Linked DNA regions of Homo sapiens. The protein of the gene in region 1 interacts with the protein of each later gene in a pairwise test. Each region holds a gene or a part of one and is shown on either strand. Other genes may lie near its edges.

Region 1 (7,693 bases):
GTGGGGAGGGGCTTTCCGACAGTCAGGAGCCAACCATAATCCGGGATACCCTGTTTCTTTCTTTTTTCTTTTTTGAGATGGAGTCTCGCTCTGTCACCCAGGCTGGAGTGCAGTGATGCAATCTTGGCTCACTGCAACCTCCGCCTGCCAGGTACAAGCCATTCTCCTGCCTCAGCCTCCCAAGTAGCTGGGATTACAGGCATGCACCATGATGCCTGGCTAATTTTTGTATTTTTAGTAGAGATGGGGTTTCACCATGTTGGCCAGGCTGGTCTTGAACTCCTGACCTCAAGTGATCCACCCACCTCGGCCTCCCAAAGTGCTGGGATTACAGGCGTGAGCCACCGCGCCCAGCCGGGGTACCATTTCTAATCCTGGTGGTGAACATCAGCAACACTGACAGCGTTGTGTTAAGCAGCCTGGGATTTAATGTGATTTATGGGCCATGTTAACATTCAGGCCAAGGGCCCCTCTGAGACACACTGGAAAGAGGGCCTGCCCTAGACTGACAACTTGAGACCAGTGTGGCTGCATGAGGGGGTCAGCAGACGGCCCCTCAGTGTGGCCGCATGAAGGGGACCAGGAGATGTCCCTGCAGTGTGTCTGCATGAGGGGGGTCAGGGGACGGCCCCAGGCCTCCAGTAGCCCCACTGGCTTCCTGTTCTCAAAGCCAAGGCTCTGACAGAACCATCTTTGCCTCTAGTTCCTAAGAAGGGTGCTGACTTTTGAACTACTTTCATCATTTGAAAAACAGCCTACACCCTTACACTGTGTCCACAGAAGCCATGGGGACGTCTGACTCTACTCCAGAGGATTTACATTATTTCACATGTACATGGCTCTACACAGATTAGATACCTCCAGCGTGTGGCCCTGGGCTGACTGTGGCCTTCCGCTTATCACTGGACCTTAGCGCTGGGACGTTTGCTGGGAACTCGCATTTCCTCTTCAGGGTGGCAGCCTCATTGCAGCTCTCCAAGTACCTGTGTGAAAGGCATGAACCACTGGTGAGGCCACACAACATGAGAGGAGGGAAGGTGTGTGAGATGGTGGAGACTCGGCTGGAAATGCCGGCATACCTGATGACGCTGTCCAAGCAGCTGATCTGCTGGTAGGAGCAGGTGGGCTGGTTCTTGCAGGCCAACTCCTCGGGGAAGCTGACCCCCAGGCTGTCCTTTTCCATGGCAGGGACAGCTTTCTTCTCAGCTGGGGGATTAGTTTGCATTTCTGAAGGAATGGCAAAATTGTTCTTTCATTCATTTTTCTCCCACAGAAAACGCTGTGTATTTACAAAGCATTTTCGTTCTACCTGAAGACAGGGCTGGGGACTCAGAATCTGCTTCATGAGTATGGAAGCCTGGGGACAGCCTGGCATCTGGCAGCCCTGTGGGCACGAGCACCACAGTGCCGTCCACAGAGAGACCTGGGGGGGGAGCTGCTGCCCAGCCTGGTGTCTGCTTCTCTCTGGGGTCTAGGCTGTCCCCAGGGGTCAGGGACTCAGCAGTGGGAGACAGCAGTTCTCACTTGAACTCTTAAACTTTCAGGGCCAATGAGAGCCCACGTACTTTATGCTCCTCCTGGGCCAGGCCAGTGTTTTCAAGGTGATCCCTGCTAGTAACAATTATGATGACAACTGCCTGCTCACTGTGCTGCAGATTCGACTCTTGCCCCAACGACATTCATCACATGCCTGTCCCCTAGGGACCCTCAAGCAAAGAGCTGTGTCCAGCTCATTAGCGTGTCCCCAACACCCAGCACAGAGTCCAGCAGGCAGCATGTCCACCAACACATCCCCAAGGCCAAAAGTCCTAGCGGTGTCTGGCCAGAGTGTTCCCCACGGGAGGCTTCGGCCTGAGCACAGAGAATGAGCAAGGGCCCACCAGGGGGAGGGGACTGGGATGCATGCATGTGTGCACACGTGTCTGTGTGCATGCTGTGTGAGAAATACATGCGGGACAGAGGAGCAGCATGAATCTGAACCCGCGCATGACACTGTGAAGCTGCCTGGGAAGTGTGGCGCTGTGGTAGGAAAGGGCTGCTGCAGTGGGGGTGGGTCGGCAGCCCCTGGGTGGTACTCCCCACTTCAGACAGGTTTGGTTTGAGTGTATGTGGATGCTGGGCAAACCGTCGGCAGTTGTGTGTGTGTGTGAGTGAAGGGTTTGCAAGTGTAAACACACAGCCATACAGCTACTCTGTACAGCAAGAACAAGCGGCCCAGGCCGTGGCTCCCAGGCACACCCTGCTGGCAGGCCAGGGTGCAGGAAGGCACACTGGTCACAGCTCCCCAGGCCTGCACACCTAGCCACACCCCGCCAGGCCTGCAGGGCATCAGGTGCCCAGTGTGGACATCAGTGCCTGCACTGGCTGAGTGCAGGACTGGGCTGCTCTCGCCTCTTGGAAGCTGCAGACTGTGCTGAACGCAGAAGGGGGTGTGACACGGCTACAAGGTAGACTCCCTGCCAGCCAGAGTCAGCATTTAACCCAGGTTCCCTCTTCTCATGTGGCCATACTCTAGTTTCAGTAAGGAAATGTTGAATATTTTTTTTTTTACCTGTAACGGATTTTTTCTTTTGTTCTCCAGATTCATGAGAATAATGACTTCTATTTTTGGTCTTGTTACCATTTTTACAAATTTCCTTGAAGAAAAACAAAATGAACACATTATTCATTCTAGGAGACCTCCTTCAGTCTGTCCGGCAAAGTGAGAACAGAGGATGGCTGAAATAATTTCAGCAACACAGAAGGAAACTGTGGATGAGAAATCTGACAGGTGTAGAGCTAGATAAAACCTATTTGATGATCCTAAAGAATAATAAAAAATAAAGCAAAACGGCACATTACATTTTTTTTTTTTTTTAAGACAGAGTCTTGCTCTGTCACCCAGGCTGGAGTGCAGTGGCGCAATCTTGTCTCTCTGCAACCTCTGCCTCCCGGGTTCAAGCCATTCTCCTGCCTCAGCCTCCCGAGTAGCTGGGATTACAGGGGCGCGCCACCATGCAAGGCAATTTTTGTATTTTTAGTAGAGACGGGGTTTCACCACCTTGCCCAGGCTGTTCTTGAACTCCTGACCTTAGGTGATCCGCCTGCCTCGGCCTTCCAAAGTGCTGGGATTACAGGTGTGAATCACCGCACCCAGCCCACATTTTCTTCTTTCTATCCTAGTTAAATCTTCACTTTTGCTTGTTTTGTCTGTTTTAAATAATTTTCAACCAACACTTAGCTATGGTTTCTAGCTCTTTCAACTCTTAAGAGATTAAAAAGTCCCAAGTGGACAAAGTTTAGAAAGGAAGCAGCAACAGCTGCAATCAGGAAGCCCCTCCTAACTGCCAAAGGTTGTCTTGAGTGTGCTTTTTAACTCTGGAGGGACATCCACAAACTCATTTTCTCAGGGAGAATGGAAGGAGACGTACGGCTCTCCTCCGGCGTGAGTCCTCATGGCCGTTGCTGTCGCTGGAGGAGGTCTGGCTCATAAGGTGCTCGTGGGACCCGTTGCTGCCCAGACTCCCGTAGCCACTGGAGCCGCTGTGGGGGACGGGCTGGGGAGACAGCAGACAGCGCTACAGACACAGCCAGGGCTGCTGAGCTATGCATGTGGCCCCCTGCCAACACACCCTGTTTCGCAGAGAGGATGGCGACCCGCCTAAGGCTACATGGCAGAGACCAGGGGAGCTGAGGTTTGAACCCCAGGGTCAGCTCCAGAGGTAGACTCCTGGCCTCCAGCCGCGGTGCCCCGACCCAGACATGCAGTCACCGAGGAGACGGCACCAAAGGAATGTGTCCAACCCGCTCATCAACGCATGGCTGCAGCCAGCCACGCCTCTGTGGATGGGTTTAAAACAAACAAGATGCGATGACAGCTTCACTCCACAGTCTCCGGGAACTGACAGGCAGGCGCCTACTCAGGTGTGGGGTTGACTGCAGTGGGCCTGATTTTTTTTAGGGACCTTGAGTACAATGTCCCTCCCTTAAGTCCCACTGCTCTGGATTAGAATGAGCCCCCGCACCACTGAGAGGTCACTCTGGAACTATGCAGCCTGTGTCAGAGCACGGGGTCTGCACACGTCCTTCAGCTACTCACTCAGGGCTGCAGTTCAGACAAGGTCGAATGCAAGGCTGGAGAGAGCCAAGGGTACTATGGACTGTCTCGGACTAGCACAGTCTATGCCCAAACTGTCCCCTGGGGGATGTTCAGAGAATGACAGATGAAGCTGTCTGAGTGGGTGTGCCAGGACCAGGGTTCAGAGCCTATGTCCTCTGCAGGGGGCTCTCAGGCTGCTACCTGGGAGGAGGACATGCAGGCACCACACCCACCTGCAGCAGGAGCCGGTGGATCTGCTCTGTGAGCTCCTGAATGCTGGGGTGCAGGGCCTTCTCCTCTGTGCAGGGGTGGGCTGCAAACACGTCCTCATTCAAAGGGCCCCTGCGTGGTTTTAATTCATCTTGTTAGATGGGGCCCCACAGGAGGACCTCTCTGGCGTGACTGTATAGCCACTACATGCTGCCTGCCTGGGTGGGCCCTCTGCCTCTCCCCTGCAGCCCCCCAGGCTGCTGCCTGTCCACTCCCTACTCTGCTTGAATGAGGTCCCTCCCACTTGGGGGCAGAGGACAGGTCACCCCTGCCTAGCAGTCTGGGGCTCCAGATTGGTGGCAGGAAGCAAGGTTTCGGTCTTGGCCTCTCAGCCCCTCCCTATGCCATCTGTTGCTGGGAGGTGAGGACAGCCCGAGACCCCCGCCCAAGACCCCTGAGCCACCTCGGGCCCTTGGAGCACTCACACCCTGACTTTGTGCCTCCCAATGATGAAGGAGATTTTCCTGCTCCATGGGTTGATGAAGCTGGACCAGCTGGTGTCCAACGTGATGTACTCTCCGTTCCGGGCGCGAAACCGAATGGGAGAATAGTCGAAAGGCTGCCCGCCTGACTGCAGGACTAGGAGAGCAAAAGCCAGCATTCAGGGGAAAAGGGGAGCAAACAGGATTTATAGTAGAGAGAGACAAGTCAAGAGTCACTCAGGCCCAGGATCATTTGCAAACTGTAGGGGTATGAACACTTCTTCAAAGCCACTGCTTTCAACCTCCTGTTTTTGCTGTAGATTACCAGGAGGCTGTTTCCAGCAGGAGCTGTTTCATCCCATGTTTCACCTCTGCTAGTGTCACTTGCATCTATGAGGGCTGGGCTTGGTGAGGACATGCACTGTGCACTCCCCTGGCCTGGTGAGAACCTTCCTAGCCACAGATGAACTGGTCTCCCCTCCTCCCATGCGCCACTGAAGCCAACAGTAAACATAAGATGCTACGGACTCAGGCCACGGACTGAGAAACAACTGGCCACAAAGGAACTCACATGAGTTTACCCCTCTCTCTCGACTCCACTGGGCACTGCAGTGCCAGGAGGGAGGCGGCGAGGCGGGCGTCTACCACCTGCTTGTCCTTAGCTGATCTGACCTGTCAGAGCTAGACTGGTCCCAAGAAGCAGCCCCAAGGACACAGGAACTTCCGCCAAACACTTCAGGATGTACCATGAAAAGGGGACCTACTCTTTTTGTGGATGGCCAGCATCAAGGGCCTGTCACTAGGGTGGAGCTGCACGAGCACTGGGGTTTCAATCAGGTCCTGAGGTAGGTAGCCCAGGAGAGGGACCGCCCTGGAAGGCAAGCAGACACACGCTAGGATTGGCATCCAAACAGATGAGGAGATTGTCACTAAGAACCATCTTATTCCCTGGAAAGAGAAGATACACTCCAAACCCCACCCCCTCCCCCACCCCCGGAGATCAAAAGTTGGACTAACAGAACCAGCTAGACTTTTAATCAATAGCAAACGAAGGTTCACTGTCCAGGACGCTGAAGGAGGCTCCCTCTGCTGGGGCCTGAGTGCTTCAGCTCTGCGTTTCACCTCCCAAGAGATAAGTCATGATCATGCTTTTGTTTTCTTCCTTCCAGCATCTTTTTCTTTTTCAGTGTCATTCATTAGTTTGGCCACATGTGACCTGGCATGGATTTTTGCTTAACAAGTTTTGCCTGGGCCTCGGAAAACCCTTTGTATGTGCTTCTTTTCCAGCCTGGTCTCGTGTGACTTTGGCCTCAGCATCCAGTTGGTTTACTGTGGCTTCTTTGGAGTCTCGGTGGCTGGCTGGGCCTCTGCCCTTTGAGCTCATGCCTCCTCCCAGAGCTGTGGCTTTGCTCCATTGCAGGACGGAGCTGAACTTCAGCAGCACCTTCTGCTTCTGTTTGTGTCCAGCGCCCTCTGCCGGCTCCACCGACCATTTCTTCTCCCGATCTGCCTCTTAACACTTGTTGCATCCAAACCAATGTTTCCTCAAACTCTGCTGCTTGTGTAGAAGGATTTTCCCTGTGAATCTTTAGACCATGGTGCAGAACTTTCTCAAGGGCCTGGCGTTATTCTTTGATTTCCTCCTTCTTGTCTGAGGCTCTCTCTTCAGGCCTCATGTTTTCCTTTGGACAGGATATACAGAATGTTCCTGGCATCCGTCCCATCAAGGCCTTGCTGAAGGAGGAAGAAGAGGAAGGAAGAGGAGAGGAGTGGGGGAACAGGAAGGAAAAAGAGGGGGAGGAGGAAGAGGAGGGAGCAGAAAGGGGGTGGAGGGTGAAAAGAAGGAGGGGAGGAGGAGGGGGAGCCCTGGCTGTCCTTGGGCTTTGTGAGCCAGGCCACACACAAGGCTTCATCAAGGAGAGCTTGCAGGCTGTGGCCCATCATGCCAGGTGAACCTGTCTGCCAACCTCCCTGCACAGGGCTGAGCTGGACACCAAGTTGGCATGGGAGTGGGTTAGAGACAGTTCTCAGATCTCTGAAGGAAGAAAAGTCTCCAGAGGCTGCTTTACATATACGGCCCCAGGCCCTGCCCTCCAAGATCCTGGTTCCACAGGGCAGGGTGGTGTCCAGAAGCCTGCATCTGCAAACTGGCTCTGCCCCAGGCAGCCCCGCGGACACACCTGAGCCACCTGGAGCTGGAAGTGACGGATCCCTTTTTACCCATAGAGCCTCCCCAGGAAGCTGTGTGGCCCTGACTCCAAGGATGGGGGCCTGTGTCCCTGGGCCAAGAGTAGAGGAGGGAGAGGTCTTGATCCTCCAGCTTCTAGGTGACCTGGTTCATTTTAGGAACCCAGCACACTGGTGCTTCTTGGTCCACTTCCTGTGGTATCTTCTGAGGTCACTTTTCGGTGACTACTGCCAGTGGCCCACACATTTTTTTTCTTTCTATTTTTTTGAGACAGGGTCTTTTGCTGTGACCTAGGCTGGAGTGCAGTGGTGCAATCATAGCTCACCGTAGCCTTGAACTCCTAGGCTCAGTGATCCCCCTGCCTCAGCCTCTGAGTAGCTGGGACTACAGGTGCACACCACCACACCCAGCTAATTTTTATTTTATTTTGCAGAGACAGGGTCTTGCTACGTTTTGAACTCCTGGTTTCAAACAGGCTGGTTTCAGACTCCTGGCCTCAAGTGATGCTCCTATCTCAGCTTCTCAGAGTGCTAGGATTATAAGTGTGAGCCACTGCACCTAGCCGGCCCAAGTGTTTTTGGAGTCTTCATGCATTTGTGGAGGAGCTGGGAGAAGATGCATGGTGGGGGCAGAAGCCACTCAGAACATGGGTGCTCCCAAATCTCACTGGGACTGTTCGCACCTGCTACAGCACCCTGAGGGGGAGACCCAGAGAGAGGGACCCAAGTGGGGCTC
Region 2 (7,693 bases), on another chromosome or scaffold:
TTTAGAAGCATCATAACAGATAAAAGAAATTTATCAACATTTAAGAGGCAAAGATTTAGGGGAAAGTTCATAAAAAGATTATATTAATGTCACTAAAATAAACAGGCCACTTTAATTGTTTTAGACTCATAGTTACATAGTAAGGAAATAAAAAAGTTGTCTTTTTCTAAGAAAAAACTTGACCACAAAATCATAAACATCTCTAATTTAAAGAGCATTGGTTCAGATGAATATAAAACTGGTGCAACAATTTCTCCAGTACAGATGCATGTCTCTTGACCAAAAATTAACTGAGTTTGTAAAAATTGCTTAAAAATTAATGCCTCAAGATTTTCTGGTTTGAAAATAGAGATTTGCTCCATTTTTGAAATTATCTTAATTTATGTTAATTATATACTCTTCTAAAGCAAGAAATACAGCTCTAAAATATTTACCTAATTAGTGCTCTGTCTCTGGACTTTAGGACCAATACTCTGTGTGTCCTCTTCCTGACTAGGACGTTTCCCACCACTGAGACCAGTGCCCATGGAGCTTCTTCCTGCACATTTAAAAAATGTATGTTTAAGATAGGAAAAGGAAAAAGAACAGTATGCTCCAATGCTTCATTCTTACCTTGCTTCAACAGGTGAGTTTGCTGACTGTCGCCATGAGCATAGTGTAAAATACCACTCCCTTGAGAGCAACCTGTTAGTATTTAAAACACAGTAAAATTACTTAAAATCAAATCCAAGATGTATGTATTATTAAGTCTACAAATCCAACTTTTAGCGCTTGTACTTAAGGTCATTTATATGCTTTTAAGACTAAATCTCAATCTTCCTATGAACCAAAAATCACATGCTCAAACCAGGAAAACTTAAATTTAGGCTCACAGAAGTGTTGACAGCTCAAAGGAAAAATCATTGATGATCATTTTCTAAAAAACATTTCCTTACTAGATGACAATTTGAAACTTGACCATGAAGGTAAAACATAGGGGCAAGAGTGAGATAGACATTCCTCCCTCACTCTTGTCCCTTTTCCCACGCTTTTCCTTCAGAGCTCCTCCAAACATATTTCCTTGAGGATAAGGGAATAAGGGCCTGCCCGATGAGTTAAACAATTCAAATCATACGACAAGCAGAAGACACAGACTATGTGGCAGTTACCTAGCCTAAGCAATCCTATCAACCCTTCTAAAAACAAACACTATTATAGGAGAATAGGTTGGCTAGAACAGAGAAGTATGTTTTAGGGAAACATTTCTGTCAGTGTGTCCAGTTTATGGAAAAATATGAGCATTCTGGACCTATCCACGAGCAGGTGGATAGGTCAACACCTTATGGCCTGAACAAGACTGTGCACTTACTTTCGTTTTAATTAACTTCAATCCCAGGCAATCAGTGGCAGTTGCTCACCCTAAGTGAGTATGAAGTACTATCCCATAGTTGTTTTAATTTGCATTTCCCTAATGACTAATAATGCCGATGAACTGATATTTTACAATAAAAAAACCTAAAAGTTAAATAAAAACTAAAACATATTGCTACAGTAGTAAACATATTACAGTCTGTTTTATTATAAGAACAAAAGTAAGACTTCTATGTATAGTTTATTCCTTTCCTGAGCACATGTGCACACACACACAAATACAAAGATGAGCAGAGAAAAATGCAATTTGTGTTGCAGAGATTAAGAATGTTCCACAGTCATTAAAAAAACAAACAAAAACAAACAAACAAAAAACTAAGACAAGTAAAAGAATTTTGCCCTTTGACATGCCTTGTAAGGTACTATAAAAGCCTACAGACAGGATAAGTGTAAGGCATAAAAGGATATGCTTTAGAAGCATTTAAGTCCTTTCAAATGGGGCAGAAACCTGAGAGGAGAAATGTTTAATATTAATAGCATAGCCCAAGCCGTGTCTTTTCACAATTTCCCATTTCCAGGTCTAAAATGTTTTTTTCCTTCATCTGACTACCCAAATGCTACTCAATCCTGCCACCTTTCAAGAAAGTTTCTCTAGTCCCTTCAGCTCTCAATAATCTCTCCCTTTTCTCATATTGCACATGGAGGCAGCATCTTATAATTTATCACTTTTTCATTTGTTTTTGTTTTCCCTCCACACCCCCATTTATACTTAAGTTCTACTTAGCTTTTCATGTCTCATGTCTTTTGAAAGCCTCCAAGAAGCTGGCTACAAACTATGTTACAGGCAAATATTTACATGATTAAAATAATTTCAAGATTTATTAATTCTTCTATTATATAATAAACTACCCTATATACATTTGTGAAGCAAAATTGTCCCAATTTAACCTGCTACTATGATTAGCTTTTGAAGATAATTCCAAATAAACGACACAGGTTTGAGTGGTCTAAGAAGCAGTCTGTGCCATCATTGTGTATTAGCCCAACCCTTGGTTCCTAGCCCATTGCTACCTGCCTGTTATCTTAGTGCTTCACAGAGCTTCTGTCCCTCACTCATGTGTGGGCTGACAAGGCAGGCTGTGAACTGAACAAGAGATCTGAAAGAACTTTTGAAATGATTATCTTGTGGAAGTTTATTCAAATTGTAGGAGATACTGAGAAGGAACATTTCTCAAGTATACTGCCATCACTGGCAACTGTCGACTGCTGGGTGGATCACATTCCAGGAATAAAATATTTTCTCTTGTAAACACTTATGGCATTCCATTTGCAGAGGAGGCCCAATGATGCAGGAAGAAGTACAAGCTTTGGAGCTAGTCAGACTTGGATCTGAATCTTAGCTCAACTACTTACTAACTGTGGGATCTTGGTTAAGTTACCTAATCTTTCTAGGATTATTTCCCCAAATATAAAATGAGGATCCCACTACCTCCTCCCCAGGTTACTGTGAGAAAGTATGCAAAAATCCCTTACTATCTACTGGGCAAAGGTAGGCAGTCAAAATGTGAGTGCTTTTGTCCCCTTCTCCCAAAACTAATTCTTGGAGGATAAAATACATGCTGTTTTCATGAGGATGCAGGACATTTCTGAATTCAAAAAGGTTCAGTTTTTAAAAGGTTTTATTCTTAATATCAACTTAGAACATCTGACTTAAAAAAGCATTCCTCAAATGCTACCCTGTTTTTATCCTGTTTTTTTTATTTTGAAAAATATAGATTCACAAACAGTTGTAAAGTTAGTACAAAGAGGTCCTGTTTCCCTATCTTCTTAGTGACATCTTATGAAACTACAGTACAACAATATAACCAGGTATTGACATTGATACAAAGTGTTTGTATGATTTTATGCTCTTTTATCACATGTATAGATTTCTTTTTTCTTTTTTTTCCCTTCAATTTTTATTTTAAGTTCTGGGGTACATGTGCAGGATGTGCAGGTTTGTTACATAGGCAAACATGTGCCATGGGGGTTTGCTGCACAGATCAACCCATCACCTAGGTATTAAGACCAGCATGCATTAGCTATTCTTCCTAATGCTCTCCCTGCCCCTGCCCCCCCAACAGACCCCAGCATGTGTGTTTTGTTGTTTTTTGTTTTTGAGATGGAGTTTTGCTCTTGTTATCCAGGCTGGAGTGCAATGGCGCGATCTCAGCTCACCACAACCTCTGCCTCCTGGGTTCAAGTGATTCTCCTGCCTCAGCCTCCCAAGTAGCTGGGATTACAGGCATGCGCTACCACGCCCGGCCAATTTTGTCTTTTTAGTAGAGACGGGGGTTTCTCCATGTTGGTCAGGGGCTGGTCTCAAACTCCCAACCTCAGGTGATCCACCCACCTCGGCCTCCCAAAGTGCTGGGATTACAAGTGTGAGCTACTGCACCTGGCCCCAGTATGTGTTGTTCTCCGCATGTATCCATGTGTTCTCATCATTCTACTTCCACTTACAAGCAAGAACATGAGGTGTTTGGTTTTCTGTTCCTGCCTTAGTTTGCTGAGGATAATGGCTACAAGCTCCATCATGTCCCTGCAAAGAACATGATCTCGTTCCTTTTTATGGCTGCATAGTATTTCATGGTACATATGTACCACATTTTCTTTATCTAGTCTATCATCGACTGGCATTTAGGTTGATTCCACGTCTTTGCTAATGTGAATAGTGCTGCAATGAACATACGTGTGCATGTATCTTTATAACAGAATGATTTATATTCCTTTGGGTATATACCCAGTAATGGGATTGCTCAGTCAAATGGTATTCCTGCTTCTAGATCTTTGAGGAATCACCACACTCTCTTCCACAATGGTTGAACTAATTTACAATCCCATCAACAATGTAAAAGCCTTCCTTTTTCTCTGCATCCTCACCAGCATCTGTTGTTTCTTGACTTTTTAATAATCACCATTCTCACTGATGCTGTCCTATTTTTTAATCAAATTACTGAGCTTCATGCTATTTTTGGTCAAAGCCAAAAACTAATATGATGGTTCAAATTTCTAACACATACTGAGTTCCTGAAATTATTAATATCACACATAAGAATTTACATGGTCACTAAATTTGTATCATACAGAAAACTACTACAGACCAGACTTTATAAGAAAAACTTATGTGCAAAAAGACTAGAGGGCTCTATGCATGTGTACAATAAATCTTTTGGCCATGTTCACAGGGCCACTGACTTTCTTAACTAATTACCTTATAGTTGCCATACACCTAAGGAGTAAAAAATAATAAGCATTCTGAAAATATGACATTTGAGTTTCATTTTATCCTTAAAATTGCTCTCCTCAGTTTGCAAGAGCTTTAACTTGACCCAGTATCTATTATACGTAATGATATTTTCCATCTCTAAAATGTCATCAATGGAGTGAAGAGATGTGTCTGGGTGCACATGTATGCATGCATACAAAGAATCTATTAAGCTAATTTCAAAGACAGATTTTTATAAAATATGTTAGTGAGGATCAATAACAAATATATTTGTTTAATAACCTCTTCATGTTACTAAGTGCAGAAATTTCCTTTTCACTTACTTCCACTGCTGCTACAACCTGGGATATTTTCTGCAGAATATCCCATGAAGCCTCCATTCCCATTAGGATTAGAAGGTACTGATGCCAGAAGACCTAAAGGACAAAAAAATTTTCTTTTAAATTATGATCAAGATAAAATTCAAAGATAAGTACATAAACAGCTGCCAAAGAAACAAAGACAGTTCTTAACATACCTAGTCCTCTATATCGTGAAAGCTGCTGATAGATCTGTTTCATCCTTTCGATATTCAAACGGCTTGCCTCAGCATGGTTCACCATTGGTTTAGGATAATTAACTCCTATCAAACATTTGGCTACCTTTTGGATACCTTCTGGTGCATTCCAGGGATCATAGATATATTTTGCAGGGAAGCCTCTTAGGACAGGCAAATAACGCCTTTGGGAGAAAAAAGAAAGATTACTAATAAAATGCACTCTAAGCAAACTATAACTACTAGCTATGACAGACCAAAATCAAATCAAGACCATTTAAATGATCTGTTTACCCTTCTCATCTCTGCTGCCCATCATGAGTGGGGAATACTTTAAGCATTGATTAAACATGAAAAGCTCTTCTTGAATTAACTATTCCAAACTGAGTAGTAATCACCCTTGATTTACCTGATATAGTCTCCATTGGGATCTGTTCTCCTACCAAAACCAACAGGGCAATAGCAGTGAAAAAACTGTTGAAAAAAGGAACTACAAGACAGCCACATCCAACTTCCAGCATTTATGCTCCAATCTGCATCAAGCAATAATTCTTCAAATACCTTCAGAAGTAACAGTAACCAATTAGTTTGCACACACATAATTCGCAAAGCAAGCATTTTCAAGGTCACAGTAGAGCCAAAGTCAAGGCAAAGAAAATCTAGCACAGAATTGTAAAATTAAACATTCCAAAGTTAGCTTCCCTATGTTCTGTTCTATAATGAGCTCTTCCAGAGAAAGAAACATAGTGGTAATATAGTATGCTTCTGAAGAGAATTTACTTTTCCAACCTCTGCAGTGTTACTGGGAGAATGGAAGGTAAAAAAAATATTCAAATCACTGATTTAAAAGGATGTGGATTTAAAAGGATATTATTAGTAGACACAGGAAAAGCAGTCAACCACTTTCAAGAAAGCAAAAATGCTATTACATAAAACACCAACAAAAACTTAGCTTCATATTCTAGCCTAAATAAAGGAAGCATACTCAAATATAAATTCACTTAAAAATATATACTAGCATTACATAGTTTAATTTCGAATTCCTTGATCAGAAAGAAAATAGAATTAAAATAAATGATTTTTATATATATTCATTAAGTATGTTATATATTGTCTTTGTATACAACGGTGTACTAGGAAATATAAGAGATTAAACACACACACACACACACACACACACACACACAAGCTCAGAAATGGTCCTTGGATGGGGCAAATGTATGGTATTGCCAGAAAGGTAAAAAATGTACGTAATGGCCGGGCACGGTGGCTCATGCGTGTAATCCCAGCACTTTGGGAGGCTGAGGCAGGGGGATCATTTGAGGTCAGGAGTTCAAGACCAGCCTGGGCAATATGGTAAAACCCTCTCTCTACTAAAAATGCAAAATTAGCTGGGCACAGTGGTGGGCACCTGTAATCCCAGCTACTCGGGAGGTTGAGGCAGGAGAATCACTTGAACCTGGAAGGCGTAGGTTGCAGTGAGCTGAGATCACGTCATTGCACCCCGGCCTGGGCTACAGAGTGAGAGACTCCGTCTCAAAAAAAAAAAAAAAAAAAAAGTACCTAAGTCTTATTACGTGTAATCCACAAGATGTCGTCACAAAATGTAGTATGCTTCTCTTTACATAATAGAAGTATTACTAAAAAGCTGAGAAGTGAGGTGAAATGATTTATATTTTAAAATTTATAATATGAATTCACTATCTCTAGGAACTCTTTAGTGAATTCTTTTCGTGATAGAAATATCACCTATAAATATATCTATCAACAAATTCAGTGTTAAATTTTACAGTTCTCTTAGTGGCTAGGCTGGTTTAACCATTAAAATGACTTTAGGTTAATCAATTTAACCAGTTTTCACCTTTTTGCTTGTCTGATTATACCATTTTTCTCTGAAAGTGTCCCCGTATTTGGGGAATTAAATGTTTTATCCACTGAAAAACTACACCATAAATGAATCTATAAACAGACAACTTCTAGGATTTGTTTTATTAAGGTAAGGATTCCTTCAAAATAAGGCATGCTATATCAGTTAGAACACTTACCTTCATTCCTTCTTCCCAACTAATCCACAGGTCCCCTCGTGTCAGGAAGCAAGCAACTGCATGCCTGGCTAGATGATGAATCCAACCCTCCTGACGAAGCTGTGTCATGATGGCATCAATCCATGGAAAGCCTGTCCGGCCTTCCGCCCATTTGGCTAAAGCCTCAGGATTTTTATCCCAAGGAATCTGAACACAGATAGGGTTTCCTTCCATTTTATCAAAGCGTGGATTATTTGTTGCTGCTGTATAGAAAAATTCACGCCATAACAGTTGCCCATAAAGGGAAAGGGGAGGGGAACTGTTCTTCTTTACCTATGGTTAAAAAGCAAAGAAGTATTATCAGAATTTTTTTTTAAAGTATTAAACAATAAGCTCTAATTTTAGAGAATACCTTTTTGTAGAGATCTGTTAGTTTGAAGTAAAACAGTCGACATGACAAACAACCAAATCGGAGATAAGGACTAAGTCCAGTAGGGCTTGCAAGCAGAGAATTCG
Region 3 (7,635 bases), on another chromosome or scaffold:
TCCAGGAGAGGGAGCCGGCCGTCACCGGGGGCGGCTGCGAGCTGCTGCCCGGATTCACCATGGTCTGCAGAGGGCGGGAAGGGGACAGGGAGAGAAAGACAAAACAGGGGCGATGCAAAAGTTAGTAATCGCCGGAGAGAGAGCAAGCCCATTCCCCTCCTCCCCGCGGAGCTGCTGGAAGGAAACAGCAGGGCAAGGGCGGGAAGGAGGCTGAGGGGGAGAGGGAAGAAGGGAGGCTCGCCGGCAGCAGCCGCCTGTTTACTTTTCTCAAGCTTTGTTCTGGGGCCACGAGCTCCTCTCAACTTTCCTGCGCTTGCCGCCGCTGACAATTTCAGCTCCGGTACTGTCAAAACTCCGAGAGCAGGCTCCGCTGCGCGCTCCACCCCTCGCGGCACCTCCTCCCAGCCCCCGCCTCCGCCCACTGCCCCCTCCTCCCCTCCTCCGCCGCCCGCCTCCAGCAAATGAGGGTCAAACCCACCCACCGCCGCGCCCGGCCCCTCCCCAGCCCCCGCCGGGCCCCGGGACAGAGCCGAGAGGAGTGGGGAGGCGGCGGCCCCGCCGGAGCCTCGTTCCCTCCCGGGTTCTGCCCCGGGAAGTGCAGCTGCAGTTCACAAGTTGGAAATAGTTCGGTTTTCCGAAAGGGAACGAGGGAGGGACCGGCAGACGGGAGACGGAGAGCGTGGTGATGGGAGGGAAGGCAAGGTGACGGGAGGGGTGGGTGCAGTGTGTAAAGTTGCGAAACTGGTTTTTCGTATTTTAAGCAGCACCTTTCACATGCCATTGTGGTGACCGCCATCTCCCATTATTGTTCCAAATCTCATTTCATTTTGAAGATCAATGAGTGTTTTCTCTGGGTTTTCAGGACACAGGCAAGAATAATAGATCATTGAACTTTAGGATGCCTGTTAACTTCCTATACAAACACTCTCCACTTTGGTCTCACTAATCTGCCCTTGATCAGCAATTTAAATGCTAAAGCTTTGTTCCTCCAAAGGGCGGGGGGGGGGGGGGGGCGGGCGGCGTTACAGATAATGTGCGAGAAGGCACCATTAAGGGATGCACAAGTTAAATTCGAGCCCGTCCTGCTGTCACCAAAAACTGCTTTAAAAAAGAATTCCCCACTCTAATGAATGCCACAAGAGATGCAACTGGGATATAATATAGGAATCAATTTATAAAGCTTAGCCTAAACCGATTAATTTGTTGCCTTCAATCCCGAGTCCAATAAAGTCCTAGTGTTCCTCTAGTCACTTATTCTGTAAAAAGATCAAGTTATTTACTGCCAATTAAGCAGCCTGTATTGTCTTTGTCCTCTGTAAGCTGAGAGTGTGGGCTCCCCCTGAGGCTCCCGGCTATCTGCTCAAGACATTCAGCTGATACCTCAGAAGAAGGCGAACTTTGCCTGTACCCGGCCCAACTTGGCTGCTGCAAAAAAAACGAGGAAGGAACGAAACAAGGACTCGGGTTCCTTAAATAGGCCGATTTTAAACACATTTCCTCCGAAAGAGTCCCGGAACGTGTGTCCAGTGACCGCACAATAAACCAGAATAAGAACTGCACCAATTAAGCTGTAACAAAACCCTGAGACTTTGGAAACAGGACCACTCTAAAACCCATTAGCATTGCATTTATCCGAATGCATCATACCTTTATGTAAATTGATTTATCTGATGCATTTACTCGAGGAATTGCTTTTTGTTACAATTTCAGCCCTAACCCAAATGAATCTGCATTTCCTGCCCTAGATCTTTAAACTGTTTCCCCCAACGTTTTAATCGCTCCGAATTCCTTTTTAAAAGGAGAGTGAGGGAGGAGATTCCAAGCTCTTCCCCGCCCCCATCTTTAGTGAGAGGTAAATATATATGTATTTTTTTTTTGAAAAGGAAACATTACACTGAGAAAAGCATCCAGTAACCCCATTAGCTAAAGCTCTTAAGGACAAGCAATACCTTAATGCTGATTAAATCTAAAAGAGATGAATCAAGAAGACTGACCAGAAACTGACTCCCCTGATAACTAAGGACGGGCCCTCATCAAGTTTCATTTAGAGTTGGAAAAAAAAAAAAAAAAAAGAAAGCTTTTAAGTTAAATAGGCTTATACTCTAGTAATTACATAGCCAAGCAATTTAGGTCCTGGGATAGTCAGTGAAATAGAAAGCAGAACTGGCAGCTAGAGGCAAAATCTGCCCCCCTTTAACAACGTCTCTGGTGTTTTTTAATGGAGACCAAGGGAGGGACAAACGTAACGCTGGCAATTTGTAGTACAAAAATGGATGCTTAATTCATGTCTTGATTTTAATTAGGTGATTCACCGTATTTCTCCTGGATTGGAACAAAAGACTTATAAGCCAAGAAGAATTTTTTTAAAAGAACCAGCAATACCGAATCCTGCTCACTTAGATCCTTCCTGCCACTGTTTCAAAAATAGTGTTTACTAGAAGGGAGGGGGGGTATCGTGACTATCCCCACCCCCACCCCCCCAAACACACTACTTCTCATACTTAAAATCCTCATCTAAGCACCCCTTGCCTTTCCCTTATGAACTAGAAATATCCCCACCCCCTCTACGGTCCCCACCAGCCCCGTTTCCAAGAAGAGCCCTTTTGTAAGCAGGAACCGCTACAAAGCTGGCGGCCCGGGGCTGCCCTCCGCGCTAGCTCGCAGGCCGGCCTCGGTAGTTTCAGACTCGCGCTTTATCTAAGCCGACGTATTGTTTACTTGCAATTTGGGACGGTCAGGGGAAGGAAGCCAAAGAAAACAGCCCTGGCCCGAATCGACCCCCTCCCTCCCTCTCCCACCTCCCGGCCCGCGGCTCTCCACCCGCCCCCTTACCTGCTTTTCCCCTATATTGCAATATTGCGAGAGGCGGCGGCGGTGAAATGCGAGCGAAGCCGCTCGGCTTCCAGGGAAGGGGCGCCTGGGCTGGCGGAGCTGGAGGGAGGGAGGGAGTTCTCGCAGAAGCAGGAAAGGGGAGGAGGGGGCTAAGGGCGGCTTTTTTTTTTTTTTTAAATCGCGTTGCTCTGGGGCGGGTTGGGGGGCCCCCGCGTAAGTGCCGGGCGGCCGGGAGCAGAAGTGTCAGTCTCAGTCTTCGTCCTTCTCCGCCTCCGACTGCGCGCGAGCAGCTGCAGGAGCCCTCGGCCCGCGCGGCGCGGCTTCAGGCGCGGCGCAGCGGCAGCAACTGCTGCAATCGCTGCTGCAAGTTTGGCAATGTGGCTTCACTTTGTATATTCCCCCGCCCGGGGGCCCCCGCCCCCGCCCGCGCTCCTCCCGCTCCTCCTCCTCCTCCGCCGCCGCCTTCCTCCCTCCCGCGCGCTCGCTCGCTTGCTCGCTCCGGGATGGCAGCGGCGGCTCGGCTGAGCTCCCTGCACCTCCGGCCGGGAGCAGTCGCAGACACAACAGCCCCGGGAGCGGCGGCGGACGGTGCGGAGGCCGGCAGGCAGGCGCACCCAGGCGTCGGGGGCTGCGGCCGGCCGGGCCCGGCGCGCTGGAGCCTGCGCCGCTGCCGGGGCTGTTGCTGCCCGGCTCGGAGGCGGCGGCGGCGGCGGCGCTGGCCTCTAGCCGGCTCGCTCGCTCCCTCCGCGGCTCTTACACATGTGTTACTGACAGAGCAAAATCCCAACTACTCCCCGGCTCTGCCTCCGACGTCAGCGACCCTCAGCCACTGGGCGGCCGGATTGTTCAGGCGGAATAATAAAACCTGCCAATCCGGGGAAGGACAAAGGGATGACTGAAACGAGACTCGGGGGGCGGGAGAGAGAGCGAGGCGGCAGAGCTGGCCGACAGAGGAGAAGGGAAGGGCCCGAATCAGGTGGGGTGAAGTGACCCGGGCGCCTGGGGCCGGGGACCCGCTTGGGCTGCCCTTCGCGACCCGGGATCCGGAGTCGAGACGCAGGGCGGGGCCTCACCTGCCTTCTCAGCGCACGGGGACCCTGAGGACCCGCGCCCGCTCGCCCCTCGGGGACTGCCATCCCCTCTATCTGAGAGGAGACCCTTAGGAAACTTACCATCTTTCTCAGAAATGGGTCTCTTCCTGTTTGGGAAGATAAGTCCTGCATCTTAGGGCAGTGGACTTCTATCCCCTCACGCACAAGCACACAGAAGAGGATTTTTGTTGTTGTTTCTTTAATTCACGATATTGGAGATTTATGAACCGTAGTGGAAGCTTAGTTAACAAGGTAGAAACATAAAGGAAATAATAGTTGCTAGCTAAATACTGCCTACTTAGCCTCCCTCATACTCCCATTTTTCCGAGTTTGAAAGTGCCTAGCAGGCATTTCCTGGATCCTTGTCAATTGCTGGTGATGTAGGGAGCACAGTCCTTATTTTCAAAGTTGACGAAAACTTAAGGGAGAAAGCCTTTCCCGACTACCCTCCTCACTGTGGAGGATGAGAGGCGGAAATTCTCACAGCCCCCAAAAGCAATGGAAGTAATTGCAAGATTTGCAATCTCACAGCCTCTAGAGAGTAAGAAATGTCACTTCTAGTATAAATCAAGTTTTGAGGAATGCTTTTAGGGTGCTAGCCTGAGAGTCTTTTTCCAAGGCCGAAGCACAGCCTAGATGCTTGAATACCTAGGCATTCGACTTTATCTACTCTGCCAAATAGGTTAAATAAATCTCCAGACTGAGGCTAATATTAGGCCTGATTATTGTTAGTAAGTTCCAGAGAGATTTTTCTGGTGGAAATTATCATGAAAGTGCAAAGCCCTTCTGCTAAGTATCATTAAGTAAAACCAGCCTTGTGGGGCAAGTTTTCATATTGTGTTACACACAGTACTGCTAGATTGAGGAAAGGAACCTGAAGGAGAATCTGGCGAGACAATGCAGATGTTGAACATTTAGGGTTTTAGTGTCTATTTGGGGGATTTCTGTCTTTCAAACCATCAAAATTAATAAGGCTGCATAAGAAAGAATAATTATTGCCCATACAGTCAGGTAGAGGGCATTTTAAATATCAATTCAAATACTCATTTTTTAATTCTAGCACCTTAAAATTAAATGAATTAATTTTATTGATTTGTATTTAAAGTTGCACTGCTATGATGAATTCACCTTGTGCACATATAAAAAACTTTTTTTAAAAAAAAGTCATTAAAACTATAATAGTAATTAAAATGTCCTACACAGAAAACAGCTACAGATGGGCATGATTAAAGAGGACCAACTTAGAAAAGATGTAATGCTGCTTGAAGGTTAGTCAAGAAAACTCAATTAAACCAGATGAGGAGAGGAACACCATAAACAAATAATACATTTGAATCCCCTGGTTCATTTTCACTTTTTAAATAATTTATAATAAAAGGAGATGACACAAGATCTTAGTGGGCTACAATTAAGTTATGATTTGTCATGTGCAAGTAAATTTCCGTCTCTGGGCCTTAATTTTCTCATCCACAAATGAGAGAATTAAGCCAAATGGTCTTTATTTTTTCTTTTTAAAAATGATTTTCTTAGATAGAGCACATAATGCATAGATGTATAACGAATTGTGGTACTTTTCAGGATTTTTCCTGAAGAATATGCACTAAAACGAAATCTTAATTCCTGAAGGAAATGTTAGAAATTTAACCAGACACATGTTCAGCTATCATTGAGTGATTATCCAGAGGATCCCGGTGGTGTTTGTGGAAGGAAGGAGAGTGAGATGGATAAAACTTTGAATAACAGAGCTCTAGGCTACAGGGCCTACATTTTAGGAGGTGGTTTTAGTGCTTCAGCTCTAATTCTGTGCGGAGTGAGGTCTTTAAACATGTCCTGGTAGATTGGAGTGGATGGGAGTGTATTACCAGAGAGCTTTATTTGCTGATGTGTGTTTATAGAAATACAAAAGCGATAATGGCTAACAGTCTCTCTTCTGAGAGGTAGGGAGTAAATACATTCACTGTAATCAAAATTCAGGTGTACTTTTACCACAGCGCCACCTCTGGGTAATCTTTATTTCTGCATTCTTTGCGTTTAGCAGTCCTTTCTCATCCTGATTTGTGGTCTGAAAATGCCTGGTTGAGTGGGTAGCAACGTCAATCTTTTATTTCCACTGATGCGAAACACAAAAACCTTGTAAACACACACAAATTCAGTATGGGTAAAGAAATTCTGTATTCGGATATTCTTCAAACAAATATTAAAAACAGTGCATAAAGTAATATTCCTGGTATGAAGTAAAATTGCCTAACTCGAAATAATGTTATATTGTGCCCCACAGTTGACGAAACCTCTGCTGATATCACACATTCATCATTCATCCTACTCATCTGCAATGAGATATAAGATTAGGGGGCTTTGGAAAAGAAAGATAAATGTAAATCGTTTCTTTCTTGAATCCTAATTAAATGTGGGAACCATACTGCTCCTAGATCAAGCCGTCATTTTCTCCACTTGCCCCAAAATTATTTGTTCATAGCTTCCTTTCTCGTTTATGTCCTTCAATCATAATCATTCTTTTCTCCAAGTGACAGTTCGCTAAGAATCTCCCATGGACAGCCAGAGGTTCTACACAGACCTATGCAGCCTTTAATGTCTGGAGAAAGTCTAGGCTATTTGATGCTGATATGACCTCCAAGACAACATGCCCCAGCTCTTTCTCAGGAAAAAATATTCTGTCCTTTTAAAGTCAATGCAAAACCGTTTTTGAAGAAAGTCTTTTTAGGAAGGAAAATTTTTAAAAATCTGCTCAACTTTATTGCTGCCATCACAGAGATCCCTTGATATTCAGTTTCCTCCAACGTGAATACAAAAAGCTTGAGTCTAGGACAACAATTCCAGAGTGTAAAAGGTGTGGAGAGAAAAGGGAACAGTAGTTACCAACAGAAAAAACCCAAGGAAGAGGAAGGGCAGGTTAGGTCCTGGGCCAGTTTTCTGTGGTGGCGTTGTCGTCTGAGCAGCAGGGTGTATGGCACAGTAAGTATAGTCGGACCTGCTGCTTCATTTAAGAATAGGAGTTTACAGGCCCAGTGGCCCACGCCTATAATCCCTGCACTTTGGGAGGCCGAGGCAGGTGAATCCCTTGAGTTCAAGACCATCCTGGGCACCATGGCAAAACTCCATCTCTACTAAAAATACAAAACTTTAGCTGGGTGTGGTGACATGTGCCTGTAGTCCCAGCTGCTGGGGATGCTGAGGTGGGAGGATCACCTGAGCCCTGGAAGTTGAGGCTGCAGTGAGCCATGATTGTGCCACAGCACTCTAACCTGGGAAATGGGAGTGAGGCCCTGTCGCAAAATAATAATAATAATAAGAGTTTACCTAGAACTCAACATCTCGAAAAGCCTATATTTCACGGAACCATATCTTGGCTTTAAAATATTGATAATATTTAATAATACTTTGAATTTACTGACTGCCTTTTTAGTCTTTCTCAAAATTCTTTATAAATATCTCACTAAATGTTTCATGTGATAAATGTTTCTAATAATTGCCTTATTAGAATATTATTGTTTGTTTTTTGTTAAAGCAATCCAGATGACTACGTTGGGTAAGTATCCCACCAAATTATGTTAATCAATATTTAGGAAGTTCTACCCTAACTACTCTTTTTAAGGTAATAAACAAGCATAGTGAAGAAGTTGATTTTATGGCAAGAAAATAACAGATCACTGAGGAAAAGGAAACAGCATTGACATTGTTGTGACTGGAAATA

What was found. The genes of interacting proteins can lie anywhere in the genome.
Region 2: the proteins of PER2 (region 1) and CRY1 interact in a two-hybrid assay, tested with the Homo sapiens proteins (5 studies listed by BioGRID, with this or other methods).
Region 3: the proteins of PER2 (region 1) and LMO4 interact in binary tests that used the Homo sapiens proteins (3 or more experiments, as listed by UniProt).

The regions. Positions count from the first base shown.
Region 1 is NC_000002.12:238,257,418-238,265,110, forward strand, and holds part of PER2 (period circadian protein homolog 2), read right to left. Parts: intron 5,642-7,693; coding exon 5,535-5,641; intron 4,928-5,534; coding exon 4,774-4,927; intron 4,421-4,773; coding exon 4,312-4,420; intron 3,537-4,311; coding exon 3,411-3,536; intron 2,637-3,410; coding exon 2,552-2,636; intron 1,228-2,551; coding exon 1,080-1,227; intron 984-1,079; coding exon 859-983; intron 1-858. UniProt on the Homo sapiens protein: Transcriptional repressor which forms a core component of the circadian clock.
Region 2 is NC_000012.12:106,992,353-107,000,045, forward strand, and holds part of CRY1 (cryptochrome-1), read right to left. Parts: coding exon 7,590-7,693; intron 7,511-7,589; coding exon 7,199-7,510; intron 5,715-7,198; coding exon 5,563-5,714; intron 5,339-5,562; coding exon 5,136-5,338; intron 5,035-5,135; coding exon 4,942-5,034; intron 685-4,941; coding exon 613-684; intron 539-612; coding exon 435-538; exon of another isoform or gene 1-434.
Region 3 is NC_000001.11:87,324,442-87,332,076, reverse strand, and holds the start of LMO4 (LIM domain transcription factor LMO4), read right to left. Parts: upstream 3,198-7,635; 5' UTR 2,833-3,197; intron 851-2,832; exon of another isoform or gene 263-850; intron 65-262; 5' UTR 62-64; coding exon 1-61. UniProt on the Homo sapiens protein: Transcription cofactor. Plays a role in establishing motor neuron identity, in concert with MNX1, acting, at least in part, to disrupt LDB1-LHX3 complexes thereby negatively modulating interneuron genes in motor neurons.